3 linked regions of the Homo sapiens genome follow. The protein of the gene in region 1 interacts with the protein of each later gene in a pairwise test. Each region holds a gene or a part of one and is shown in the gene's direction. Other genes may lie near its edges. The genes, in order: KASH5, MALL and GALNT2.

The links.
Region 2: the proteins of KASH5 (region 1) and MALL interact in binary tests that used the Homo sapiens proteins (3 or more experiments, as listed by UniProt).
Region 3: the proteins of KASH5 (region 1) and GALNT2 interact in binary tests that used the Homo sapiens proteins (3 or more experiments, as listed by UniProt).

What each region holds. Positions count from the first base shown.
Region 1 is NC_000019.10:49,408,604-49,412,264, forward strand, and holds part of KASH5 (protein KASH5), read left to right. Parts: intron 1-363; coding exon 364-428; intron 429-592; coding exon 593-680; intron 681-1,149; coding exon 1,150-1,272; intron 1,273-3,661. UniProt on the Homo sapiens protein: As a component of the LINC (LInker of Nucleoskeleton and Cytoskeleton) complex, involved in the connection between the nuclear lamina and the cytoskeleton.
Region 2 is NC_000002.12:110,088,322-110,091,982, reverse strand, and holds part of MALL (MAL-like protein), read left to right. Parts: intron 1-212; coding exon 213-380; intron 381-3,661.
Region 3 is NC_000001.11:230,273,195-230,276,855, forward strand, and holds part of GALNT2 (polypeptide N-acetylgalactosaminyltransferase 2 precursor), read left to right. Parts: intron 1-1,250; coding exon 1,251-1,370; intron 1,371-3,661. UniProt on the Homo sapiens protein: Catalyzes the initial reaction in O-linked oligosaccharide biosynthesis, the transfer of an N-acetyl-D-galactosamine residue to a serine or threonine residue on the protein receptor.

The sequences.
Region 1 (3,661 bases):
ATGCCCGGCTAATTTTTTGTATTTTTAGTAGAGACATGGTTTCACCCTGTCAGCCAGGATGGTCTCGATCTCCTGACCTTGTGATCTGCCCGCCTGGGCCTCCTGAAGTGCTGGGATTACAGGCATGAGCCACTGCGCCTGGCCTCTTGGCCTGTGCTTTAGCTTCTGGATTCCTGTTGCTCTCTCTCTTTGGCTTCCTAACATTCTGTCATGGCTTTCTTCCCCTTGTCCCTAGGCAGTATGTGTCTGGGGAGCCCAAAGTAGTCAGGAAAGGGGAAAGAACCCTGGAAGAGGAGCCCAGAGGTGGATGGGAGGGTGGGAAAAATGCAGAGCCAAATGTGCTCCCCACTTCCTCCTTTGCAGGAACTGAGGCTGGAGATTTCACGCCTGGAGGAGCAGCTGAGTCAGACCTATGAGGGGCCCGATGAGTGAGTGGAATTTCAAGGGGTAGGAGGAGGCAGGAGGGGAGCCTAAGGGCAGGGACACCCTGGCCTCCAGCCCCAAGGTGGGCAGGGAAGGGAGGCCAGCATGAGCTGACTGAGTGGCCACCAGGCACAGAGGCCATCTTCCTCCCTCCTTCCTGTGTGGCCAGGCTACCTGAAGGGGCCCAGCTGAGAAGAGTGGGCTGGACCGAGCTGCTACCCCCATCGCTGGGCTTGGAGATCGAGGCCATTCGACAGGTGGGCCTAACACCCCTGGAATAAGCTGCAGGCCACCAAGGCAGAATCTCCAAACATCTCCCTACTCTGATCCTCACACCAGCCTAGCCCTAACCCACATTGCTGCCAGAGGCTCCTATCGCAACCTTAGCTTTTCTCTAACTCTCTCTACCTCGGATCCTAACCCCAAACCCACTGCCAGACCCAGGCCTGTGCCAGACCCCAGTCTGATCCAGCTTTGACTCACCCCTATCTCGTCTCCCTCCATGACCATCTCACTCCTTAACTTCATCTCGAACCTAGACCTTGGTCCTGGCACCAAATCCTCCCCTGTTCCTGCTTCTGCCCACTCCCCAACCCCAGCCCCACACCAGCCCTTTTCTATCTCTCATCCTATTTTCAGCCGCACACCTAAACCTATTTCTATCTCTGACCTTGTTTTCTACCTTAATATGGCTCTCCCTGACCTCGGAAACAACTTCTGTCCCAGAAACAGGAAGTGGCAACTGCTGATCTCTCCAACCCTCTGTGTGGGGTGTGGCAGTGGGAGGAAGTCATCCATGAGACCAGTGAGGAAACTGAGTTTCCATCTGAAGCCCCAGCTGGGGGACAGGTGAGCACAGGAAAAGCTCTGAAGTCCAGGAGCTGGAAAGGGGCCAGGAGCTCCAGGTGCCGCCCTGGCCAGCCCATTCACTCACACTTTTGCTTGTTCCCCATTTGATGAGAAAATGTTAATTGAGGGCCCAGTGTGTGCTGGACACCCAGCCACAAGCCAGACCAGACACCACCCCTACCCCAGGGACTGACCTGCCAGCGTTGTAGACAAAGGTGAACCAAGCAAACACACAAGTTGCACTGTGGCTTTTATTGTTGGTTTGTTTTTTAGAAAACACTCTTGGGAATTACATTATTTAAAATCGTACTACTGTAGGAAGGGAATAAGTAAGTTGTTTATTCCAGCATTTTAAGGATATATTAAGCATTTATGTTTCAAATGTTAGCACCTTTAAGAAAAGCCAGCAAGCTCACTATGACATCTTTAACTCAGCAATAACCATTGGGGTTTTTTTTGTTTTTTGTTTTTAGAGACAGGATCTTGTCTTATTCTGTTGCCAAGGCTGGAGTGAACTTGACTCACTGCAGCCTCAATCTCCTGGATAAGCAATCCTCCCACCTCAGCCTCCCAAGTAGCTGGGATTACAGGAACACACCACCATGACTGGCTTTTTTTTTTTTTTTGAGATGGAGTCTCACTCTGTCACCCAGGCTGGAGTGCAGTGGCACGATCTCAGCTCACTGCAACCTCCACCTCCCAGGTTCAAGCAGTTCTCCCTGCCTCAGCCTCCCAAGCAGCTGGGATTACAGGAACCTGCTGCCACACCTGGCTAATTTTTGTATTTTTTTTAGTAGAGACGGGGTTTCGCCATGTTGGCCAGGCTGGTCTTGAACTCCTGATCTTAGGTGATCTGCCCGCCTCGGCCTCCGAAAGTGCTGGGATTACAGGCATGAGCCACCATGCCCAGCCTTTTTAAAATTTTTTTATAGAGTTGAGATCTCACTGTGTTGTCCAGACTGGTCTCAAACTCCTGGGCTCAAACTGTCCTCCTACCTCAGCCTCCCAAAGTGCTGGGATTACAAGCATGAGCCACTGCACCTGGCTTTTTTTTTTTTAATTAATTAATTTATTTTGAGACGGTCTCACTCGCTTCTCTGTTGCCCCGGCTGGGGTGCAGTGGCATTATCACAGCTCACTGCAGCCTCAATCTCCCTGGACTCAGGTGATCCTCCCATCTCAGCCTCCCAAGTAGCTGCAACCACAGGCATGTGCCACCATGTGTAGCTAAATTTTCTATTTTTTGTAGAAATGAGGTCTCCCTGTGTTGCCCAGTCTGGCTGAACTCCTGGGGTCAAGTGATCCGCCTACCTCAGTCTCCTAGAGTGCTGGGATTACAGGCATGAGCCACTGCTCTGGGCTCTCTCTCTATTTTTTTTTTTTCTTTTAAAGAAAATGTTGTAAACAGCTCTATAAACAAGCTGTATTGTCTTGAGAACTGCACCACTTCAAAGCTCTTTGCCATCCTTAAGGAGAGACTCATTTCTCTGATCACTTTTTCCCTGGTTTGAGAAAAGCTTTTGTTTCTCTTTGACACCAGAGCTTGTTTGGGTTCTCATTTAACTCTCCCAGTATCTCTGTAAGGCAGGCATCCTCATCTTGTTACTCATGGGAAACTGAGGCTCAGGGAGAAATCACATGCCAATGGTCACACAGCTTGTTGGGGACAGAGCCTCATCCCTCAGAAGTGTAGGTTAGATTGGGCTTCTGCTTTGAGCTGTCAGATGCCCCTGAGAGACAGGCTTGTCAAGGGGAAGACTGAGCCAGGCCTCAGAGTGCAACCTGCGATGGGCCCAGGGATACAGAGCTGAGTCCCTTGGGGCCGGGCCTCTCAGTGCTCAAGGCCTGATAGGAGAGACCCTGCAAATGGGTTGCCCCAGTGCAGAATGATCATTGTGCTAGAGGTGGGGGATGGGCCTGTGGGAGCCCAGAGAAGGGGTATCTGTGTCAGGTCAGAGATTGGGGAAGATATTGAAGGAAAACTGATACTTGAGTGGAAGGAAGGAAGGAAGGAAGGATGGAAGGAGGGAGGGAGGGAAGGAGGGAAGGAAGGAAGGAAGGAAGGAAGGAAGGAAGGAAGGAAGGAAGGAAGGAAGGAAAGAAGGAAGCCAGCCTTTGAGGCACTAGCACAGCCTGTGCAAGGCCTTGGCATAAAATCACGATATGCTTGAGGAGTAGAGGGTAACTAGGGGTGACTAGTGAGAGATGAGGCCAGGGCCAGATCATGAAAGGAAATCTCTGACAAGCTAACAGATTGTACTTTTCTTCATAAAGCCACAAGAAGGGTGGGGTCAGCTCCGGGCTTAAAAAGATCCCTCTGGAACCATGTGAGGGACCTACTGGAGGCAGGGAGGAGGCTGGAGCAATGGTGATGAAGCCTGAGCCAGGC
Region 2 (3,661 bases), on another chromosome or scaffold:
ATGACCTCTGCATTAACCCCTTGAATTTTCTAACAATCGGACCTGACTTTACCGTGACTCAGCGGGGCCAGCCTTCCTTCCCCATTTTCCTCTTGGTTCCCTCCTAACTTCACCTGAACTTGTAACTAGAGACAGAAAAGAGACACCCTGCAAAGGGAAACATACTCCACACTAGCTAATGAAGCCCCTTCTTTTATGCTTTTATCTTCCAGATATTTGGGTTCTTGGTCTGGACCATGGTAGCCGCCACCCACATAGTATACCCCTTGCTGCAAGGATGGGTGATGTATGTCTCGCTCACCTCGTTTCTCATCTCCTTGATGTTCCTGTTGTCTTACTTGTTTGGATTTTACAAAAGATTTGAATCCTGGAGAGTTCTGGTAAGAACCAGCAGCATGGCTCTTCCTGGGTGGACGTTCTGGGTTGGGTGAGGACAATTGGCCTTTCTGGGCAGGGAGGGATCCTGGGCTAGGCTCCTATGGAACCAAGACTTTTTATCTTACCATTTTTACTACCACGCTAAAATGAAGACATTTATCTGCAAGCGTAAATAATTCCTGGTATTCCCCTTCACTGGCTTCCCTGTTAGGAGAATACACAATGACCTGTGATCAAGCATATTCTGATGTGTTTCCCCTAAATTTTCTTCCTGGTAAAATCCTTGGAGCAACACTGAAGAAAAAGCTAGTAGGAAAAAAATCACTCCATTCTCAAGGCCCTAACACAATCCCTGCGACAGGGTATTTCTTCCATATCCCACATGAATTATATGCAAAGTATATATACATATATACGTATATACATATGTATATATGTATATATATGTATATATATACTTTAATTGTACTCTACAAATAATTTTGGATGTAGATGCTTTCATTTAATATTACATCACTAATTTTTATTTATCACGTCATCTCAAAAAACCATTTAAAACTGTTCCACACTGAACAATTGAAGACATATTTAAAAGTACAGAATATTGTATTATAGGCCCTCATGTAGCCATAACCCAGATTCCAGCATTATCAAGACCTTACCACATTTGTTTCATCTAGCCTTTGTCCCCACTAAGGAATTTTAAAGCAAACACCAAACATCATGCCATTCTATTCCACACACTTCAGTATGTTTCCAAAAAAACTCCGCAAACTTTCTCACATTATCACATGTATACGAAGTAAACAATTCCTCAGCATACCTAAGACAGTATACAGTGGTCCCCCATCTCCGGAGGATAAGTCCCAAGACCCCTAGGGGATGCCTGAATCCTCAGAGAGTACTGAACTCCGAATTTGCTATGCATGCACTTCTTTTTTCTTCTTCACAATTTCACAGATAGACAATTCATTCTTACTGTAGATCTTAACAACCTCAGCATATTTTTTTTCTTTCCTTATTAAGCTGAAAACTTATACTTTTTAACTTAAAGAAAGCACCCTATGACTTCTCTTTGGCATATCCAAATTGCCAGCATCACTACTCTTGCAATTTGGGGCCATTATGAAGTAAAATAAGGATTCTTTGAATGCAAGCACTGCAGTGCCACAACAGTTGATCTGATAGCCCAGATGAGTACAAAGCGACTAACATGGGTGGCACAGACAGTGTAGACATGCTAGACAAATGTCTGATTCACATCCCAGGTGGAACAGGGCGGGACAGTGCAAGATTTCATCATTGTACTCAGAAAGGCACACATTTAATTGTTAATTTCTGGAATTTTTCATTTAATATTTCAGACCAAGATTGACTTTGCGTAACTGAAATATACTGATCTTTATTAGTCTGCCATTGCTTACGACATAGATATTACATTAAAAACACTGTGTATTAGTCTATTCTCACATTGCTATAAACAACCAGAGACTGGGTAAATTATAAAGAAAAGAGGTTGAATTGACTAGTTCCTCATGGTTAGGGAGGCCTCAGGAAACTTACAATCATGGTGGAAGGTGAAGGCTAAGCAAGGCATGCCTTGCATGGCAGCAGGAGAGATGGGGGAGGGGGAAGTGCCATACTTTTAAACCATCAGATCCCATGAGAACTCATTCACTATCATGAGAACAGCATAGGGGAAACTGCCCCCATGATCCAATCACCTCCCACCAGGTCCCTCCCTTGATACATGTGGATTACAATAGGAGATGAGATTTGGGTGGGGACAAAGAGCCAAACCATATCATTATACCACTGGCCCCTCCCAAATCTCATCCTTCTCACATTTAAAAATACAATCATGCCTTCTCAACAGTCCCCCAAAGTTTCAACTTATTCCAGCATTAACCCAAAAGTTTAAGTCCAAAGTCTCATCTAAGACAAGAGAAGTCTCTTCTGCCTATGAGCCTGTAAAATCAAAAAGCAAGTTAGTTACTTCCAAGACACAATAAGGGTACAGGCATTGGGTAAATGCTCCCATTCCAAATGGGAGAAATTGGTCAAAACAAAGGGGCTACAGGCCCCATGCAAGTCCTAAACCCAGCTGGGCAGCCATTAAATGTCGACATTCCAAAATCTCCTTTGACTTCATGTCTCAGATTCAAGTCACCCTGTTACAAAGGGTGGGCACCCAAGACCTTGGGCAGCTCCACCTCTGTGGCTCTTCACAGTACAGCCCCTGCAGCTGCTTTCACAAACTGGCATTGAGTGTCTGTGCTTTTTCAAGGTGACCAGTGCAAACTGTCAGTGAACCTACCATTCTGGGGTCTACAGGACAGCTCTTCTCACAGCTGTACTAGCCAGTGTCACAGTGGGGACTCTCTGTGGGGGGTCTGACCCCACATGTCCCTTCTGCACTGCCCTAGTAGAGGTTCTTCATAAGGGCTCCACCCCTGCAGCAGACTCTGCCTGTACATCCAGTCATTTCCATACATCCTCTGAAATCATGGCAGAGGTTCCTAAACCTCAATTCTTGCCTTCTGCATGCCTGTAGGTCCAACACCATGTGTAAGCTGCCAAGGCTTGAGGCTTACACACTCTGAAGCAATGGCCCAAGCTGTACCTTGGCCCCCAGCTGCTGGAGCTGGGGCAGCCGGGTTGCAGAGTGCTGTGTTCCAGGACTGTGCAGAGCAACAGGGCCCTGAGCCTGGCCCACAAAACCATTTTTCCCTCCTAGGTCTCTGAGCCTGTGATGGGAGGGGCTACTGTGAAGATCTCTGAAATGCCCTGGAGATATCGTCCCCTTTGTCTTGGGGACCCTCATTACTCATGAAAATTTCTGCAGCTGACAGCTTGAATTTCTCCCCAGAAAATATGTTTTTCTTTTCTAACACATGATCAGGCTGCAAATTTTCCAAACTTTTATGTTCTGCTTCCCTTTTAAACATAAGTTCCAATTTTGGACCATCTCTTTGTGAATGCATATGATTGTACACTTTCAGGAAAAGTCAGGTCACATCTTGAATGCTTCAATGCTTAGAAATTTCTTCTGCCAGATACCCCAAATCATCTCTTTTAAGTTCAGAGTGCCACAGATCTCTAGGACAGGGGTAAAATGCCACCAGTCTCTTTGCTAAAGCATAGCAAGAGTGACCTTTATTCCAGTTCCCAATAAGTTCCTCATCTCCATCTGAGACCACCTCAGCCTGGATTTCATTGTCCATATCACCATCAGCATTTTGGTCAGAATCATTCAACAAGTCTCTAGAAAGTTCCAAACTTT
Region 3 (3,661 bases), on another chromosome or scaffold:
ACCAAGAAAAAAACAGTGTCTTCATAGCACATAATAGTGCCTGAAGTTGCAGAATACATTTATTTGTGTGTCTTTCATGTTCCCCACTAGAAAGGGAGCCTGGCTCTGTGACAGCGCCGGTGTCATACAGGTGTGCAGCAGGTGGTCATGGGACAGACCGATAGAAAGACAGACAGACAGACGGAGGGGAGGGCCACTGCAGCGTGCTGGGGCTTAGAGAGGAAGGGGATGGAAGTGGATAGTGAGTCCCTGTGGGGTTTTAAACTGGAAAGGGCCTTGCTGCCCCTCGATATTAAGGGGTGTTCATCCCTTTGAGTGGGACAAATGGAGAGTGATGGTCAGAAGCCTCACCTTCCAGTCCCTGCTGTGGCCCTGCCTGGAACAGGCTCCGGCCTCCTCTGCCACCTGGGACCATGTCTCATTTAGTATCCAAAATGGTTGTCCTCTCACCCTGTCACAGCCTTTAACTTGTGTGTGTTTGTACATATATGTGTGTGTTTGTTTGTTAACATCATGGTGTGTTATTTAAACACTCTCTAGCTCAGTTTTCTCATCTATAAAATGAGAATAATAATAGCCCTCATGGAGCTGTTGTATAAAGGGCTTAAAATAATGCTTGGCACATAGCACCCCATTAAATTTAGCTGTAATGTATTCAAAGAAATTCATAGATCTATTCCTCCAGTTTTCAGAGGGCTTCATGAGCACCCATAGATCAATTAGCATTCACTTAGGAGGCTATACACGATATATTTTGCTTACATATGCAATGTGTTATTTACTACAGTTCACATTCATCAATGCTGTTTGCAGGCCATACCTGCATGAGGGCAGAGTCATTCCAAAATAGCATGGGTGGACCAGTTGCCAACTGTCTACCTGGTGTATAACCAAGCTTGTGCCACAGTTTTTACAGCTCACATTGAATTATAGAAAAATGAACAAGGCAGTCTAACTTGTATTTGGGGCTAAAATAGTTAATAGTTTTATTTTAGTTACTGAGGTCCTCAAAGCACTTCTGCACATCACTCAGCCAACTTACTGCTCAGTTGTGAGGTTCTCCCACATCTCTGATGTTATAAATTTGCCCTTAGGCAAAAAGTAATTGTTTCGTTCTCAGTTGGCTCAGGGGTTCTGAATCTAAGCTCCACCCCGTGACCCATTTCCTTTTTGAGCCCTCATCGATGCCCCTTCTTTCCTTTCACAGCCCGGTGCATAGCACGCCTCTGACTTCTGGTTTTGTGTTCCAGGAATGGGCCTTGACGAAGGAGAAGTCGGTGAAGCACATGGATTTGTGCCTTACTGTGGTGGACCGGGCACCGGGCTCTCTTATAAAGCTGCAGGGCTGCCGAGAAAATGACAGCAGACAGGTACGGCTTGCAGGCACCCGTGGGTGCCCGTGATTAACCCAGACCAGGGTAGCCACGGCCTGCGCCCTCTTGCTCTGTGCTGCCTCTCAAAGCATCCATCTCTGCGTGTACTTATGTGTTCTTTTGCATCACTGTGAATAATGTCTAGCTGCCCTATTAGACTTAAGCCACAAACCTAATGTTGCTTATTTCTGATTATATTCTCATTCTCTTCCCTATGCCGCTGAAAATTTAAAGAGAAATTATCTACTTTTGTTTATTCATCAAATACTTTTTTCTATTTCAATTTACAAAAATTCTAAATGATTAATGTTCACATGGATGGTACTCGATACATAATGCAAGTGTGTGTGTCTATGTGTGTATATATGTGAGCATATATATACACACATATATACACACCACATATATATACATGCTACATATATACATATATACATGCCACATATATACATATATACACGCCACATATATACACATATATACATGCCACATATATACGTATATATATACACACCACATATATATACATGTATACACACCACATATATATACATATATATACACACCACATATACATATATACACACCACATATACATATACCTGCCACATATATACATATATAAACACCACATATATATACATATGCATGCCACATATATGCATATGTAAACACCGCATATATACATATATACACACCACATGTATACGTATATATAGATGCCACATTTATACATATATAAACGCCACATATATATACACACCACATATGTATACATATATATACATGCCACATATACATCTATAAACACCACATGTATACACGCCACATATATACATATGTAAACACCACATATATACACACCACATATATATACACGCCACATATATACATATATACAAACACCACATATATATACATATACACACACACACCACAGATACATACATATATATACATGCCACATAGATATACATATATAAACGCCACATATATATACATATAAACACACCATATATATACATATAGATACATGCTACATTTATATAAACACCACATATATATACGCCACATAGATATACAAGCACAACATATATACATGCCACATGTATACATATGTAAACACCACATATATATACACACCACATATACACACCACATATATATATACAAACACCACATATATATACATATATACATACACCACAGATATATACATATATATACATGCCACATATATATACAAATATACATGCCACATATATACATGTATATACATGCCACATAGATATACATATATAAATGCCACAGATATATACATATATAAACACCACATATATACATAGACACCACAGATACATACATATATACATGCCACATATATATACGTATATATACATGCCACATATATATACGTATATATACATGCCACATATATATACGTATATATACATGCCACATATATATACGTATATACATGCCACATATATATACGTATATATACATGCCACATATATATACATATATAAACACATATATACATATATAGACACCACAGATATATACATATATATACACACCACATATATATACATATATACACACACACACATATACACACAGTTTCTTTAAACATTTCAGAATAGACTTTCTACCTGCCTTGTAAGCCGGTTTTCTCTGACGTATTCCCTTGTGGCAGCTTGTGGACACACCCTTTCTCAAGGCATGGGGTAACAGTTAGTGTCAGGAATAGAAATGCAAGCACAAAAGGTCCTCCCTGTATGCCCATACTTGGAGTGCCTGCCCCTGTTCTTACAGTCGGTCCTTAGAGATAGATGGGATGTAGGGAAACTGAGGCACAGAACCTACTGGAGCCAAGAGCCTAAGCCAGCTTCTAGTCTAACCCTGATTTCACAACAGAAAAGTCTCAGAAAGTCATTGCCTCCACCCTGGAGTCATCTGGGAAGACCAAGGCCAGGACCGAGTCCCCGGTTCTGACCCCAGTTGTCAGGGAGACGCCTGCAGAGGGCCCTCTTTCACCTGTCTGTCTCCAAACCCCTGCGCCAGCTCTGGGTGCTCCTCCTTCCCTGCTCTGCAGAGTCCCAGCCTGTCCTGGCAGTGGGAGCCCCTCTCTAGGGTTCTGCTCACAATCCGCATCTCTAAATGTCCATCTGTGTTGATGACTTGATACCAAAATGTGTAAGGGAGTGCCTGTTAAACAAGAGAAGGCTAGCACCGCTTGGACCCAAACCACCTAGAAATTGCCTCACTCATTGGCCCCTCGAGAG